2 separate regions of the Homo sapiens genome follow, and region 2 is linked to region 1. A link means that fine-mapping ties the variant in region 1 to the expression of a gene that starts in the linked region. Tissue or cell type: thyroid. Region 1 holds a variant in brackets; the other region holds the start of a gene. All regions are shown on one strand. Distances are from middle to middle.

Region 1 (8,104 bases):
GCAGCATTATTCATAATAGATAAAAGGTGGGAGCAACCCAGTCTCCAGCGATGGATGAATAAACAAACATAGTACGTTCCAGACATATGATGGGATATTATTTAGCTATAAAAAGAAAATTTTGAAATAGGTTACAACATGGATGGACCTTGAAAATACTAATATTATGATTAATGAAAGAAGCCAGACATAGAAGGAAAAATATTATATGATTCCACTTATGTGAGGTACCTAGAGTAGTCAAATTCATAGAGACAGAGAGTGGCAGCGTGGCTGTCAGGGGCTGGGAGGAGGAGGAGGTAAGGGGAAGTTACTGTTTAATGGGGACAGAGTTTTTGCTTGGGATGACAAAAATCTGCTAGTTATGGTTATAGATAATGGTGATTGTTACACACACTGTGAATATATTTAATGCTACTGAATCGTACACACACAAGTGGTGAAAATGATAAATATTATGAATATGTTGTCACACACACAGATGTGATATCCAGATAAAATGCCTGATTCTGATGGGATCATCCAGGGTGGCTCCATGATCCTGAATGTGCGGAAAACCCCCTGGAGGCTTGCTAAGGCACAGATCTTACTCAGTAGGTTTAAAGCTGGCCCCGAAATCCTGCATTTCTAACAGACTCCTGGGTGATGCTGCTGCCAGGGCTGGTGGGGGGACTACACTCTGAGAGCCCCAGGGTAGAGGACCACAGCCAGACTCCCCTGAACCTCCATGGAGGTCTCCAACTAGCAAGGGCTGCTGTGCCCCTTAGGCTTGTAAAGATGTGCCCAGGCCCAGGGGGTGGCCTTCCATCACGCCGCTACTTTGATTTGGGAGCCTGGCACCGTGTATCCATCATGCAGTGACATTTACTGAGTGTCTACTGGGTGCCACAGAGGCCTGAGAAGCCAGGACTCAAGCTCGGCCATGGACGTGTGTGGAGAGTATGCTGCCTGCTTCACACAGCACCACATCATCCTGCTGGACTCTGACTGACTTACTTTTCTTTAATGACTTATTTAAGAAAAATAAATTGATTGATTGATTGATTGATTTGATTTGATTTGATATGGAGTCTCACTCTATCGCCCAGGCTGGAATGCAGTGGTGCGATCTCGGCTCACTGCAACCTCTACCTCCTGGGTTCAAGGGATTCTCCTGCCTTAGCCTCCCAAGCAGCTGGGATTACAGGTGTGCACCACTGTGCCTGGCTAATTTTTGTATTTTTAGTAGAAACACGGTTTCACCATGTTGGCCAGGCTGGTCTCGAACTCCTGACCTCAGGTGATGAACCCGCCTCAGCCTCCCAAAGTGTTGGGATTATAGGTGTGAGCCACCATGCCTGGCCAAATAATAAAAATAAACTTATTAGAAAGGAAACCTCTCATCTCTACCACACGTAGAAAGCAAGAATTACCTGGCAGAAGTAAAATGGTAGTTGTACAATGCAATGAAAACAAAACTACTGTATTCGGTTGCAGCTCTACCCTGCTGCCTGCCCAGGCAAACTCTCCTCTCCCTTAGAACAAGGCTGACAAGCGCTGACAAGGTGCAAAGTAAGACACCAGGCCAAACTGAAGCCCCAGCACTGCAGAGACAGGTGGGAAGGAGGGACGGCAGAAATGACCTCCGGGCTCTGTGATGCGACTTTCTCTAGTGCCCTGCCTCACCTAACATCACAAGCCCCACGCTTCAGAAATCTCAGACCCATTCCAATCTTTCATTGGCAAAAGGGGAAATGGAGGCCCAGACCCTGGAAAGGGCTCACTTGAGGTCCCAGAGTGAGTGCAGGGCCAGGTAGAGCTCAGATGGGAAACTGGCTCTTTCTCTAGATTATCATAGTAAGTCCTCCCCACACCAGCTGAGATGGAGCAGGCAGGTTACTCCATGTGGCGTCACTGTTTTGGGAAAGAAATATTCTGGTTTTCTCTGCCTTTTGTCAGTGGCAATAAAAGAACAACAGTGCTGGCCAGGTGCGGTGGCTCACGCCTGTAATCCCAACACTTTGCGAGGCCAAGGCGGGTGGGTCACCTGTGGTCAGGAGTTTGAGACCAGCCTGACCAACATGGAGAAACCCGGTCTCTACTAAAAATACAAAATCAGCTGGGCGTGATGGTGCATGCCTGAAATCCCAGCTACTCAGGAGGCTGAGGCAGGAGAATCACTTGAACCCAGGAGGCGGAGGTTGTGGTGAGCCGAGATCACGCCATTGCACTCCAGCCTGGGCAACAAGAGAGAAACTCCATGCCAAAAAAAAAAAAAGTATGACAGTGCTACTGATATGAACACAGGACAGAGTGTTTGGAAGTTCAGGGACACGCCCTCTCCAGCCTTCCAGACTAGTTTCCAAGTATATACAATCAGCGCTCAATCTGCATACAATCAGCGCTCAATCAATGCCTGCCGCCTGGTGGCCTGAGCTCCTTGGGAAGCACGGGGCCTCGGGTCAGCTTCCCTGGAAGCAGAGGCTGGGGCACGGATGCAGGTGTCCATGGTGGGTGCTGTCTGGAGAGGGATGAGAAGCAAGGCAGGAGAAGGAAGGGGAGGTCTCCATGGAGTCAAGCACTGCAGGCTGGGGGCGAGGCGAGTGAGGAGTCGGGCAAGTGGGATAAGGAGGCCCACTCATGCCCAGGGGCACGGCCCGAGAGCGGACATCTCCTTGAAGCTGGAGCCCTGGGTGCCTCACCTCACCCTGCACTCGGGCATGATCCACAGGAACTCTGGAGCCTGTGCTATGGCAGAGTTTGTCCTGTCTTGAGGCACGATGGCTGGAAGTCCTCCCTATCCACAGGCCACACCCGTCCCGAGAGTGTTGGGAAGAGGTACCCGCGCTCCCTTCCCATCCTCCTTCCTCCTTCCACGGCCAATGAATGATGCATCGCCTTCTGAGAAGCCTCCCTTGGACCCTGGAAATATCAGTCTCTGGCCTTCCACACATGGGTGGCACCACTGGGGCCTCACCGCAGGCCTCATTCCAATCCCCAGCTGCTGTTGGTTTCCCTGGCCCCTTTGGCATCCAAGCAGCAGACACAAGCATGCTAGGTAGTACAGGCTCAAGATATGTCCATTGAATAAGTGAATGACAACTGCTAAAGCTAACACACATTCATTCATTCAACTCATCACAACTGAGCCCCTATCACATCCCCGGTGCCGTGTGGGGTGGACAGGTGGGGTGGACAGGTTAGCGCC[G/C]GGACAGGCGGTGCTTAGAAATGGCTCGTGCAGGACTCAGATGGCTCACCCTGAGCAGAAGCGCATGTTCTATGGTTGCCCTATGCAGGACCCTGTGCTGATAACCTGATAGGCAGCTTCTCACTGAGTTTCTATAATGGTTCTATGAGAAAGGTGATCTTATAGACCTATTTTACAGGTGAGGAAACTGAGGCTTACAGAGGTGAAGTGAGTTTCCCAGGACCAAAACAGTTTGAATATCCTGGGCCTGACTCCAGACCATGTCCTTTAACTACAAGGGGATCTGACTGTGCCCTTTGACAGTGGGTGACCTGGTAAGTGCAAAGTGAGGACAATGAGATACCTACACCCTCCTGGTGGTGGGGGTGGTAAGGGCGAAGCAGTGGTACCTGGAAAGCTGGGCCCAGGACCTGGCCAGAGTTGGTGCTAGGCGCCGGGTGGACAGTATGATGGTATTATTTTGCATTTGGGCACTGGGCATGGATGTCTGGGATGGGAAGATGCCTTAGGAGGGCAGGGGGCGGAAATCAGGGGAGGGTCGCACTCTTTCTGTCCCTTGAGAATGTCCCCTGCGTATCACAAAACGGTTTCCCAAGTTGGGGGCAAGTAGAGAAGGCAGAGTCAGCATTCGACATGGCTTGTCTCTGAATTGGACATGGGGACTGGGGAAGAAGGAATCCCTGTTCCTGGGTGTCTGGGACAGAGACCCGAGGAGAGGGTCACAGGGGTCAGTAGGTCCAGCCTGGGATGGTGGTGCAGTCTCTTCACTTGCAGGGCACGGGGCTGATTTGTAAACTCAACTCAACTCAATTTAACTCAACTCAACTCAACTCAACTAAAAGAGTGAGCCCTGGTGACTGCTCCTGTGTCCCTGTTCCTGCCAGGGCTGGGACGAGCTGGAATTGTGATGCCCACTTGACTGAGGAGGACTATGAAGCTCAGGGCAGGATGGGAGCTCGGGACCTCACATTCTCACCTAAGATTCTTCCAACCCCCTCAACAGTATGGGGGAAATCGCCCCCATGATTAATTATCTCCCACCAGGTCCCTCCCACAACACGTGGGAATTGTGGGAGCTACAATTCAAGATGAGATTTGGGTGAAAGCCAAACCATATCATGACCCAAGTCCAGTTCCATTCATGAAATGGTCCTGCCTGCAGGGGGGCCTTTAAGCAGAGCAATGGCGCAGCCTGGAGTTCTCAGGATGGCTTTGTTGTCAGATATTCCATGCCTGTATCCCGATTCTTTATTCAAAGCGTGTGGTTTCCGTATTATCTGTGCATTTTTTAGAACCCCAAAGCTCTAAAGCCCTGCTCCTTTCTGTTGATTTCCAGAGGGTGAAGCCCCATTCCTTCCAAGTGGCTGCCCTGGGATCAGCCACCAGAGGCTAAACTTCAGAAAAAGACTGCAGAGAAGGGCTGCAGGTAGGGGAAGACATCTGGTAAATGGGAAACAACTAAGTGGAAATATATTCAGCCTTAATTAGTACTGAAAAAAAAAAAAAACCCACCTAAGTTCAGTATTACTTGCCCATTAAACCAACAAAAATAAATACAATTGTTAAAACTAATGTTTGCAGGGTTGTAGAGAACCTGGTGAAGTAACATTTCTCCCATGTAACACGAAGGAGGCTGAGACTCAGTGAGATGAAGAGCTTCTTCAAAGTCACTCCTGATGGGACCTACAAACTCTGCGACAAAACCTAGGAACGCTGATGCCAGGCCCCAGTTCCTAAGTCTACATTATAGCCTGTGTTCTTTGAAGACACATGGCTTATATCCAGAAGCTGATGTTTTTCCCTTACGCCTTTTTAACCCTCCTGGGCGACACCAGCCTAAGAGTTTTAGAAACCGCCCTCCCCAAGAAGAAAGATCGATACTGTCTTGGTGATACTCTCTAATAACAGTTTTTAATACGGTATTTCCAGAGGTTGGATTTGATGTTCTCTTTTGCAAAAGTCACCTAACTTTTCTGAGTTTCAGTTTCCTTGTCTGTAAAATGAGGACAAAGGCCCCCAAGTTTCTCCTTTACCTGCTGTTGTGTAAGGTCCCTTCCTGTTTGGTTTATATAAACAGGCTGTGTAGTACCCTGTTTGTCCCCAAAAGGCCTTTGTAAACAGAATCCCATGGTGACACTGAACATCACAGACTCCAGGCTCTGAAGAGGAAGTTTGGACTTAACGTGGTCCCAGCAACTGCTGCTACAGGGGGAATCAGATCCAGAGAGGAGATGGGATGTGTGTGAAGCCACCTCTGCCATCAATGTGTCATTTTCCCAACCCTGCTGGTTCTCAAGGGAGGGCAACTTTGTGCATGCATGTGCACCCACACACACGCACACCCCACCTGGGACACCTGACAATGTCTGGAGATCTTCTGGCTATCGCAACTGGGGATGGGGCACTCCTAGCATTTAGTAGGTAGAGACCAGTGATGCTGCTAAACATCCTGCAATGCACGGGGCAGCCCTTGTGACTAAGGCTGATCCTGCCCCACAAGTCCATAGTGCTGAGGCTGAGAGCAGACCCTAATCCTTACCATGCCTGGCTCGCCACCTCCTTCCCTAGACCCTTGGATCTTTGAAAGGGAAAAGACCCTACCTGCCCGGTTCTCTGTTACCTCCCCAGAGCCCACCCCAGGACCTGCACACAGTGGTGCTCAACACAGATTAGCAAACCAGGACTCAGCCAGGTCTTTGGAAGCATAGCCCAGGGCTTTTGACCTTTCTAAGTCTCACACATGTTTTCTGTTCATTTCAAATAGACCTTCCCCAGAATCTACCTGGATAACCTCTCTGAATCCTTCATGATGAACCTGGCCATCACTCCTGTAGGAAGCCTTCTGCGATAACCCCAGGCTCCAAGGGGAGTTGGACATGAAGACCATCGCTCCTGTGCCCACTTCCTGCACAGCACCTATGGTCCTGGCTTGAGTTTGTCTGTTTTCCCTTCTCTCCCCATCACTCCTGCAACCCAAGAAAGGAAAGACTCTATCTTTTCCATCTCAATGTAGTGATGCTTGGCATATAGTAGGTGCTCAATAAATAAGACATGAACACATATATCTTGCTCTTCTTCGATCTATTTTGCATTTAACATGGGAATGACCTTTCAAATGACAAGATCAGATCATGAAACCCCCTGACAAAAATTCTACAGTGATTTCCTGTTGCACTTACAAGAAATCCCAGAGTCCTCCCCTGGGTCTTGCTGACTCTCAGGCCTCGTCTCACTGCACCTCCCCTGATTTACAGCCCCCCAGCCATGCAGAGCTCCTCTACTCCCCATTACATCCAGCAGAGGCCACCCTCGGGCTCTTGCACCCGCTGTCCCAGACACCTGCAGTGCATGGTCCTGCTCTTCTCATGGCTGCTGCCTTCTCTGCCTGTGGGTCTCAACTTGAGTCCTGCTGTCTCAGAGACCTCCCTGGTGACCCCATTTACAGAAGCCCCCTCTAAGTTTCTATGACAAACCTCATTGGATCTGTCTTCAAAGCACTTCTGTGTGAGCCTACCTTGTTTATTTCTTATCTTCCCCTCCCAGCCAGAATAAAATTCCATGAGAATAAGGATCTCTCTCTCTTTTTGCATTTCAATAGCTGTAGTGGGTGAAATAGTGGCTCCCAAAAAGATACGTTCAAGTGCTAGTCACCGGAATCTGTGAGCATGACATTTGGAAAAAGCGCCTCTGTGGGTGAAATTGTTGAGGATCTCTGCATGAGATCATCCTGGATTAGGGTGGGCCCTAAACCTGATGACAGGTGTCCTCATAAGAAAAGGAGAGGGACATGTGAGACATAAAGGGATACAGGGAGGAAGGCCCTGTGGAAGTGGAGGCAGAGGCTGGACTGCTGCAGCTCTGAGCCCAGGAACGCCCAGCACTGCCGGCAGCTGGCAGGAGCCAGGAGCGGGCCTGGGGCGGCTTCCCCCTCAGAGCCTCCAGGAGGAGCCAAGTCTGCCCATAATTTGTTTTCAGACTTCTGGCCTCCAGAGCTGCAAGAGGATGCACTTTTGGTGTTTTGAGCCATGAATTGTGCAGAAATTTGTTATGGCAGCCACAGGAAACTAAAGCCGTGCTTCCTGCTCTGACTTAGATATAATAGATCCTCAATAAATAGTGTGGGACAATAATCTGAATCCTACTAACTGCCTGGCAGGGCCCCAGGTGTACACGGGGACTGAGCATTTAACTCTGAGAGCACCTCACTCTCATTACCAGACCCCTACCCTCAGCCCAGACTCCCACTTTCAGCCCAGGCCTCCCACTCTTATCCAGATCCCCACTCTCAGCCCAGACCCCACTCTCAGTCCACACCCCAACTCTCAGCCCAGACCCCGCTCTCAGGCAGCATCTCACCAGCCACCATCGGTAGGTGTCGTCCTCCAAGAGCGCGTTCTGGGCGGTCAGCAGCGGCTGCATGGTCTGGTTGAACCTCTCATCGAACCAGGCCGAGAGCTTGCGCTGCCCGATGCAGTGGGTGCAGGTGCAAGGCCTGTGCTTGATCAGTCTCTTCAGGTTCTCGGAGAGCTCCAGGACCATCTGCTTGGGGAACCAGGTGGTGGCCACCATGGTGTGGGAGTAGTTCAGGAAGAAGGAGGTGAGGAAGATGAAGAGCACGAGGAAGGTGAGCACTTTCAGGGTCCTCTTCCGCAGGGTCACCATCTTCGCAGTCCTGATGGTGGCCTCCCACGATGGGTAGCAGGAACTCCCTCCTAAGAGAGGAGAAAAATGGAAGAAAAATCCCAGAGGTGGAGGCTCAATCAAAAGGGATGGCAGGAATTCCAAGGGAGGACACAAGGGCCGCTAAGCTCGACTTCACTCCTGCTGGGGGATGACCCCCAACTGTGTCCCAGACACGGCTGTGTGGTAGACCAACGCCATTCGTGGCATGTTGGCTTTGCTTGCATATATTTACCT
Region 2 (8,104 bases), 370 kb before region 1:
GTCTGCACACAGATTTATTCCTCCTGGACTTTTCCCTTGAACTCTGAACTGGTTTAGCCAATGGCCCACTTGACATCTTCACTTACATGTCTCATAGTGTCTCATCCATAACACACCCAAAGTGGACTGCCGATTCCACCTCTGCTCCCATCCCCAACCAGCATGTTCTTCTGTAGTCTTCACCATCTCAGTAAACAACTCAGCAACTAAACAACTCATCCTTCTGTACTCAGGCTCAAAACCAAAAGTCATTCCTGACACTGCTCTCTCATACCCTACCAGCATTCTATCAGAAAATCCAGCTGGCTGTATTTTCCAAATGTATCCCAAATCCAAACCCTGCTCCCCTACCTCTTCTGCTATCACCCTGATCCAGCCACTTTATTTGAGATTTTTGTGCTAGCCCCCAACTCTCTCTCTGCACCTGCCTTGCCTCTTATAATCTATGAGAAGCACAGTAGCCAGAGCAATCCCTTTATAAGTCAGACCATTTTACTCCTCTGCTCCAAGCCTTCTCTCCAGTGGCCTCCTCTCATGCAGAGGAAAATTCCAGTCTTCTATGAACTGCCAGAGCCTATTTGATGTGACCTCTGTTAGCTCTCTGACCTTAACTCCTGCTGTTCCCTCTTGGCTCACTGGTTTATCCCTTTAGAGTTTCTCAAATAGGCTGAGCACATCCCATATCAGGGTCCTGGTACTTGCTGTTTTTTCTTCTGGAATGTTCTTCCCAGACAACTCACTGCCTTACTCCCTTCAGGGTCTGCTTATCAGAAAGACCTTGCTTGACCACTTGGATTCAGAGGGAAGCCATATCCCCAGCCTTCTCTATCCCTACATCCTACACCCTACCCCAGCACTCAAACCTCCTGCCATATTATGTATTTGTCTGTTGTCTTTCTTCCCCAACTAGAATGTTTGAAACTGCTATATCTCTGGTGCCTAGAAATGTTTCTAGTTCTGCTAGACAAATTGCACACAGCAGGCACACAATAGACATTCACTAGGATGAATGAATGAAATTATGAAGAACTGACTATGTGCTGGGCCCTAACCTGGAAGTCTTCAATGAAATAATTCACCCTCACAACTATTACCCTATGAGGTGGGGATTATTATTACTATTTTTCAGAGAGAAACCAGAATTAAAACCCAGTTCTATCTGCCTCCAAATATCCTCTTCCCATGACGTCACTCTGGGAAAAGCCAGGCTTTCCTCTGAGAGCCTTCCATCTACCATCAACGGTATGCTGGGTACTGAAATGTACACAAACCCAGCTAGAATAAAGGCTACTATGTGCAAAGGGCTTTCCAATTCTACCCACATTCTTTTTTTTCTGTAGTCATTTATTGATTTATTTATAATTTTAAAATTTCAATAGCCTTAGGGGTTAGCCTAAGTGAAGTAACTCATGCTCTTACTTTACGTTATCTCAACTGTATGGCTGTGAGGTAGGGAACCATGAACCAGTATTTAACACGATTTTTTTTCTGGGAAAGAAAGGCTTAGTGAGGTTTACCGGGTGTCTCTAGGTCAGCTAACTAGTCCTTTGGAAAGCCAAGTCTCCACTGCAGGTCTCTGACCCCAATTGCAGGGCAGGAGTGGGGAGGGTGGCGGGTGGCAGGCTCTACCCATTACCCTATCTGTGATAAACACTAGGTCAGGGATGCGCTATCACCACCTTACCCCCACCATACGCAAGCATCACCTAGAGAGATCCTCAGGATTCTACCCCACACAGAACTGCAAGAGGGCACAGTGGACAACCAAGTGGAAACTGAGTTATGAGCTATGCTCCCACCCTCCCAACAGTGAGGAAACTCCTCTGGACTTCAACCCAATGTGCCCTTGTATTGCCCTCCCTTGCCTCAGCCCACTCCCAACCTGAATTTAGAGTTGGGCTTGTGCATTTCTCTGTTTGCCCCAAGAAGGCTCCATGGCACCTGGGTCCAACCACCATCAGCCAAGGAGGACCTGAAGATGGCAGGTTCTGGAGGGCCTCAATCTCAGCCATGCCTTTTACTCCATCCTCTGTCCTTTGATACCCACCCAGCCCCTCCTGCCCCATCTGGGGCTGAGAAACAGGACATATCAATTGCAGTAAATTGCCACATCCACCTAAACAGGGTGTCCAGCATGTTTTTGTAACACCAACACCTGTTTGTTTAGTCATGCTGGGCCAGGTGTTTCAGCATAAAATACAAATTGAATTCCTCCCCTCAGAAGGGCTTGCAGTCAGATGATAACAGACAAGGCAAACAACTGAAACACCATTGATACATACTATATGGAGAGATGGACATCTATTCCAAGACCTCAGGAGGTGGAGATCAGGTGCCATTGGGCCCCATAGCAGCACTGTCAGCTGGAGTGACACAATGGCCAGGAACTGACCAGGACCCCGCTCCCTTGGTCATGTGTCAACACAGCAGGGAGAGTGTCCTGGGTGTCCTTGGATTGCAATCACGAGCATCCAAGTTACCCAGAGTCTGAGCCTCAGTTTCCCTATCTGTGAAGTTGGGAGATGATTAGTAAATATCCTCATAAAGATGTTCAAAAATTCAAATACACAACAATATCTGGAAAATAGTTTGGCTTCAATAAATGTTCGTTCTTTTCCCTTAATTTTTTAATTTTAATATTAAGATTAGTGTCCAAAGCTGTTATCCCTTCTTCAGATAATTATACACAGAAAGCAGGAATACAAAGAACGTCCAATCTCTGAACCACCTCAGCTGACCTGAGACCAATTTTCCAAATTGTAGTAAACACAAATGCATGCTCTCTACTCATGCCAACGCTGCATAAGTATCAGCTGGATCCCAGTCCACAAACACATGCAGTGCAGCTTCCCAGGGAAGTCACGGAGGGACAGGAGTGGAGCCTCTTACCCCAAGTCCTGCCCCCTGGAGCTACTCACCACCAGCAGAGACCCACCCATTTTCTTCAGACCAAAGACGGAGGGTGGGTACAGGATCCATCAAGTCCCTCTGAAGACCCTCCCCCACATACCACCCCAGGCCACCTATGGCCCACCCAGGGGGTCCCAATGACAGCAAAGTTAGCAACCTACCGGTGGAGCATCAGGGCTGCCTGAGATGTTCTCCATTCGCAGCAAATGATCTTATTTTCTGAAGTAGCAGCTTTCTATTGAAATTCTTCATCAGTCGCTGTCATGGGGAATTTCTCCCCCTTTTCTCTTTCTTTCTAACTGGTGAAATTGACAGTCTGCCTACATTATCCAGGCATTCATTTGCATGATCAAAAGCAGATTTGTTCCAAGATGCAATGTTCTGCCTTCCCTTCCAAGCACAGGCATCTCCAAGGAAGGCGAGAAAAATCAGAAACAGAGCGCCTCCGCTGTGCCCCTAAGCTTGGCCAGGAGTTGGCCTCGTCTGGGAGCAGGTGGAGTGGGGGCCCTGTGGGTAGCAGTAGGGGGAGGGCAGCCCATGTGGGAGTTGGAAAGCAGCACCTGGCAGCCCGAGGCGCTGGCACGAGCCCCAGCACAGGAATATCCAGTCTTTGGTGACAGATTATAGTAAGAGGAGTATGCAGGAGTTTCCAGTGTGTGTGTGATTTCCTGAAAGGAGGCACTGCTGCCTTAAATCCCCAGCACTCAGGGACGGGAGGGTGTTAGGGTCTGAACCCAGGGCATCGCGGGGACCTGGATTCAGAAAAATGGGTCACAATTCTTAGCTTTAGCCACACGATGTAGGAGAGTTGCTGAACTGGTCTGAGCTGCAGTTTCTTTAGCCTTCAAATGGACACAGTGAGAGCCACCCTGTCTGTCTCTTGCAGTGTTATAAGAAGCGAAAGAGGTATCTCCCAACACCCAGAGAGCCCTGTAGGTCTCATGGCTCTAGGATGCCCTTGCACACTGTAAACCCTCCACCCTGGAGCTATAGCCCCACATTACCCCTCACAGCTGACGCTTACACGTCACGTTGTCTAATTCTCCCCAGGGGCCCTGTGAGCTGGGATTATGGTTCAGAGAAAGCTGAGGATCAGAAGGACTGACTTGTCCCCCCCAAAATATTAAAATATTGTATTTCATGACTGCATTGTTATAAGGATGAATGTAAACCAGGCTGGATTCATTATTACATTTTCATTATTATTATATTTTTTCTTCTGATTTTAAAAGAAATTAGAAAGAAAAGACTTTTGTGAGTTCCTAAAAGTGCAGTGAGCCCTTGGCCCTGAGCAAGCTGTGCTTGATGGAGAAGTAAGTCCTTGTCCCTTAACACCATAAGGAGCAGTGAAGTCAGGAGTCATTCAAGCATTAACCCATGCAGCATCTCTCCAACATAGATTATTCAGAGGCTTCTGTGCGCTGGACTCTCTCTAGGCTTTAGAGGGCACAGTTGTAACCTAAACAGATAAAGCTTCTGACTCGGAGAGTTCATGTTCTCATGAAAGGACACAGATGATGTAAGTAAATAAAGAATTTCAGATCTTAGAAATGCCCTGAAGAACACTGAAGTGGGGCCATTGCAGAGGAGGCGATGGAATGGGGCAATTACTTTAGGGGCAGTCAGAGAAGGCTTTTCGGAGGAGGTGACTTCTGGACTGAGGCCTGAGCAATGGGGAGCCAGCGATGGGGATTGAGGTACAGAGTGGGTGCAAAGGCCCTGGGGCAGGAGTGGTCCTGGCTGTTTGGGGGTCACAGGGAGGTCAGTGCTAGGAGATCCAGTGGCCAGTGGAGGGACTGGGAGGAGAGGAAGTCAGAGGGATGAAGAAGACCAGTTATGAGATCTTTCAGGCCATCAGAAAAGTGACTTTATTCTCCTTGCAGTGGGCAGTTACTGGAATGTTTCAAGCTAATAATAGAAGGTGATTATATTGATCCACTGTTTTAAAAAGGAACATTTCTGGCAGCTATATGGAAAATTGACTAAGGAGATGTGTGACCCAGGAAGTAGAGATCAGATTGGGCTCTATTGTGGAAATCCAGGGGTTGAGCTAGTAACTTAAATTAGGGTTGCAGACATGGTCACAGTAAAAAATGATCAGATTTGGGATATATCTCGCGTTGGCAGCTGACTATATGAGTTGGGAATTCAGTAGAGAGGTCAGGGCTGTAGATACAGCTTTGGAAGAAAACCAAGAAAATGCGGTATCACAATAGCCAAGAAAAGAAAGCATTTCCAAAAGGAAGCAAAAGTCAAATGTCACAGAGTCAAGAGAGATGAGGGCAGAGATTGGGCTCTTGTAGGTCATGGGAGACCTTGATGAGGGCCATTTCAGTGGAGTAACGGGAAGGAAAGGCTGATTGGAATAGGCTGGGGGAAGAGGGGAAGTGAGGACATGGTCACATTGCTTCCCAAACCCACCCTGTCTCCACTGAATGATGCTCTCCACTGGATGCAAACGGCCACCCAGGATTCACAGAGCACTTTGCTCATTCACCAGCTGACCCCACTGACTTCACCAAGCTCTGCTCCATGACAGGAATTGTGTCATGTCCATTTGGAATCCTCAGTTCCTACTAGGTTGGTCTTCAATTCATGTCCCTCTAATGAACAAAGGAGTGTTGTGTCTCCATCTACCTCAGAGCTCTAGAGAATTCTGGAGCATTTGTGTATTCATTCACTCATCCATTCATATAATCTTGCAAGAAGCAGGTGAACTCTGGTAGGCTTCCTACTTTTCTGGTGGGGATTCTGCTCTGTGTCTCCTTCTTCCCCAACCTGTGATGTTACAACCATTTTTCAAAAATTGGAGCATTATCAATGAGCAAAAATTGACTACAGGCTGTCTGTGTACAAACCATTCCTCCCCTAAGCCCCTGCCAAGAGCAACATCTCTGCTTCTGCCCCAGTGTGGTAGAGGAGATGTGCTGTGAACTAGGACAGCAGTAGGGGTGGACCGGAGGTGGGGGCAGGTGTCACTCAGGATGAAGATCGTAGGCACAGGCTACAGCAAAATGTAGGGGAAGAGGGGAATGATTTTAGGAGCAATCAGGAAATACCTGTGTTTTAATCAGGTAATTGAGGGCTGGTCTTAGTCACTAAGGATAGGGAAATAGCAGGGGAAGAAGGTTCTAGGGGTGAGGAAGAACACATATGGATGACGAAGATAAATTGTGCCTAGGTTGAGTTTGAGGGGCCTGAGAGATTTCCAGGTGATGTGAGGCATTTATATGAAGGTATGAGGTTCAAGCTGGAGAGAGATTTGGGAATCATTAGCTTAATAGGTCATTCTTCAAGCAAGGAGAGGAAATGGCCCCACCCCACAAGCATTCGTGGACAGAATGGGAGGAAAAGGGGACAGGGTGGCAGCTGGGAGCCTTGGCTTTCAAGAGTAGTCAGAGACAGCAGAACGAGGTTCCAGAAATTAGGCTGAGGCAGAGCTGACTGGGAGGAGGAGATGGAGAGGTGGGGGATGGGGCGTCTACTGGTGGACCTCTGCAAGGTTATCAGTGACCTTGATGGAGGTTGGGGTAGCCAGATGGCCATATGGTAAAGAGGCTATAGGACAGTTGGAGCCCACCATGTAGACATGCTCTTGGAGTGCACATCTAGCTGAGAGCACCTGGATGAAGCAGATGGAGGAGACCCTCCTGTTGGGGACTGCCAGGCAGGCACTTTAGCTCTAGGTGGGGGTGGGACTCATGGAGAGCTGCACACTGAAGGTCTGAAAGAGCCAGTGGGGGGGTTTGCCCAGCGAGGGGCTCCAGGGCTGTGGGCAGCAAAGACTGAGCCTCAGAGAGATGGAGGGCCCTCAGTCCAAGAGGAGGAAGGGCCATTCCCTGAGGAGAGGGCAGTGTGGCCTGCAGAGTGCGCTGGCCTTGGGGTTTGCAGCAGGAGGCAGGGCCAGGGGGAAGCAGCGCTGAGGGGCCAGTCGGCTCCTTACTGAGGCTCTGCAGTGCCTGGGGCCAATGCAAGGACACCCAGCCTGGCCTGCTCTGTGTTCCATGCTCTCTGGCAGGTCACATTTGCAAACCAGGATGGGGAAGCTCTTCTCCCAGGTCCCGCCTGAAGCAAAAAAGCAAAAGGTAGGGTGAGGCTCTCCCAGCCACCCAGCCCTCTGTTCTTTCTGGCTTCTCCCCTGCTCCTCTGCCCTCATCACTCCACTGACCCCGTGGACCTCGCTGCTCCCCCTCACCCAGCTGTCCGCATGTCTGAACCCTACCCTCTCTTGTCTGGACTCAACCATCCTCCACGCTGCCTAACCCAGCTCCCTAGGGCACAACTGGGACCCTCACTGCCCAGCACCCCCGTCCCCTTTCCGGCTTCCTGTTCTATGCACGAATCTTGTTCCTTATCACCCCAGGACAGTCCATATCACATAGATGTGCTGTATATTGTCAGCCTGTCTCACAGAACTAGAAGCCCCATGCAGGCAGAGAACAGCCCGATTGTTCGCTGATGTGTCCCAAATGCCTCGAGCTGCTCCTGGCATACTCAGGCACTCCGAGCATAGTTGTTGAAGGGACGGTAGGATGAACAGCAAGGGCCTGCAGCCATGTGTTCTCATCGTGTCTCTCAGACACCACTCGGCGTGAACTAAAGGGCATTTCTCACCTGCCTTGCTGATTTTCTTTTTAATCATTTACTAACTAGAGGGAAGAGAGAAGTCATATTTATTGTCTCCCATGTGTCAGCCTCTTTATAATCATTAATGCATTTCGTTCTAACATCAACCCCATTTTATTGACCTGAAATGAAGGCACAGACAGGCATATCCACTGAACACATTTGTTCATTGGAGGTGAATCTTCTGAGGCCACAGAATAGAGCTAGATTTGAACCTGAGTCTCTCAAATGCCAAATTTCACATTCAATCCACTGGGCCCCAAGACATTCAGGTTGATGCTGAGGCCCTGCTCAGTCCCTCGGTGTTTCCAAGGGCTCTTACTTTTCATTAGGATGTGTTAATGGCAGTCCTTTAAAAGCACACACCAAGGAGTGGCCAGTTCATGACAGCCCTTTGTGTAATTCCTGCCTGTAACAAATCTACTGTCTAAGGCAGACCCCGCCTGTAATTACAGCTTGTGGAAGTCAGCACATGCAGTCACACGGTGGCCCCCACTCCCGCCTGCTGACTCTCTAATTAAACTGGCAATGGCATCTGTGCTCGGGGCCTCGCCAATCATGAAGGAAT

Which allele goes with the higher level. Positions count from the first base shown, and alleles are read on the strand shown. Sizes are in standard deviations (SD) of each study's normalised expression.
As copies of C replace G in region 1, the expression in thyroid of the gene that starts at base 3,121 in region 2 goes up (moderate effect, 0.43 SD a copy in GTEx).

Evidence for each region. PIP is the estimated chance that this variant, and not a neighbour inherited with it, causes the effect.
Region 2: it holds the start of SLA, and the variant in region 1 is fine-mapped to the expression of SLA in thyroid (GTEx, PIP 0.96).

The regions. Positions count from the first base shown.
Region 1 is chr8:133,468,176-133,476,279 of GRCh38, forward strand. ST3GAL1 (ST3 beta-galactoside alpha-2,3-sialyltransferase 1) reads right to left here. Exons shown (of 10, transcript NM_173344.3): 4 at 8,103-8,104; 5 at 7,544-7,899. The coding sequence starts at 7,849. Among named protein-coding and RNA genes, the nearest start is that of ST3GAL1-DT, 98 kb to the right of the region's middle. The variant G/C (reference allele first, on the strand shown) is at 3,188.
Region 2 is chr8:133,099,482-133,107,585 of GRCh38, forward strand. It overlaps SLA (Src like adaptor), which reads right to left and starts at 3,121. Exons shown (of 9, transcript NM_001045556.3): 1 at 3,072-3,121. All of the region lies in intron 43 of TG (thyroglobulin), which reads left to right.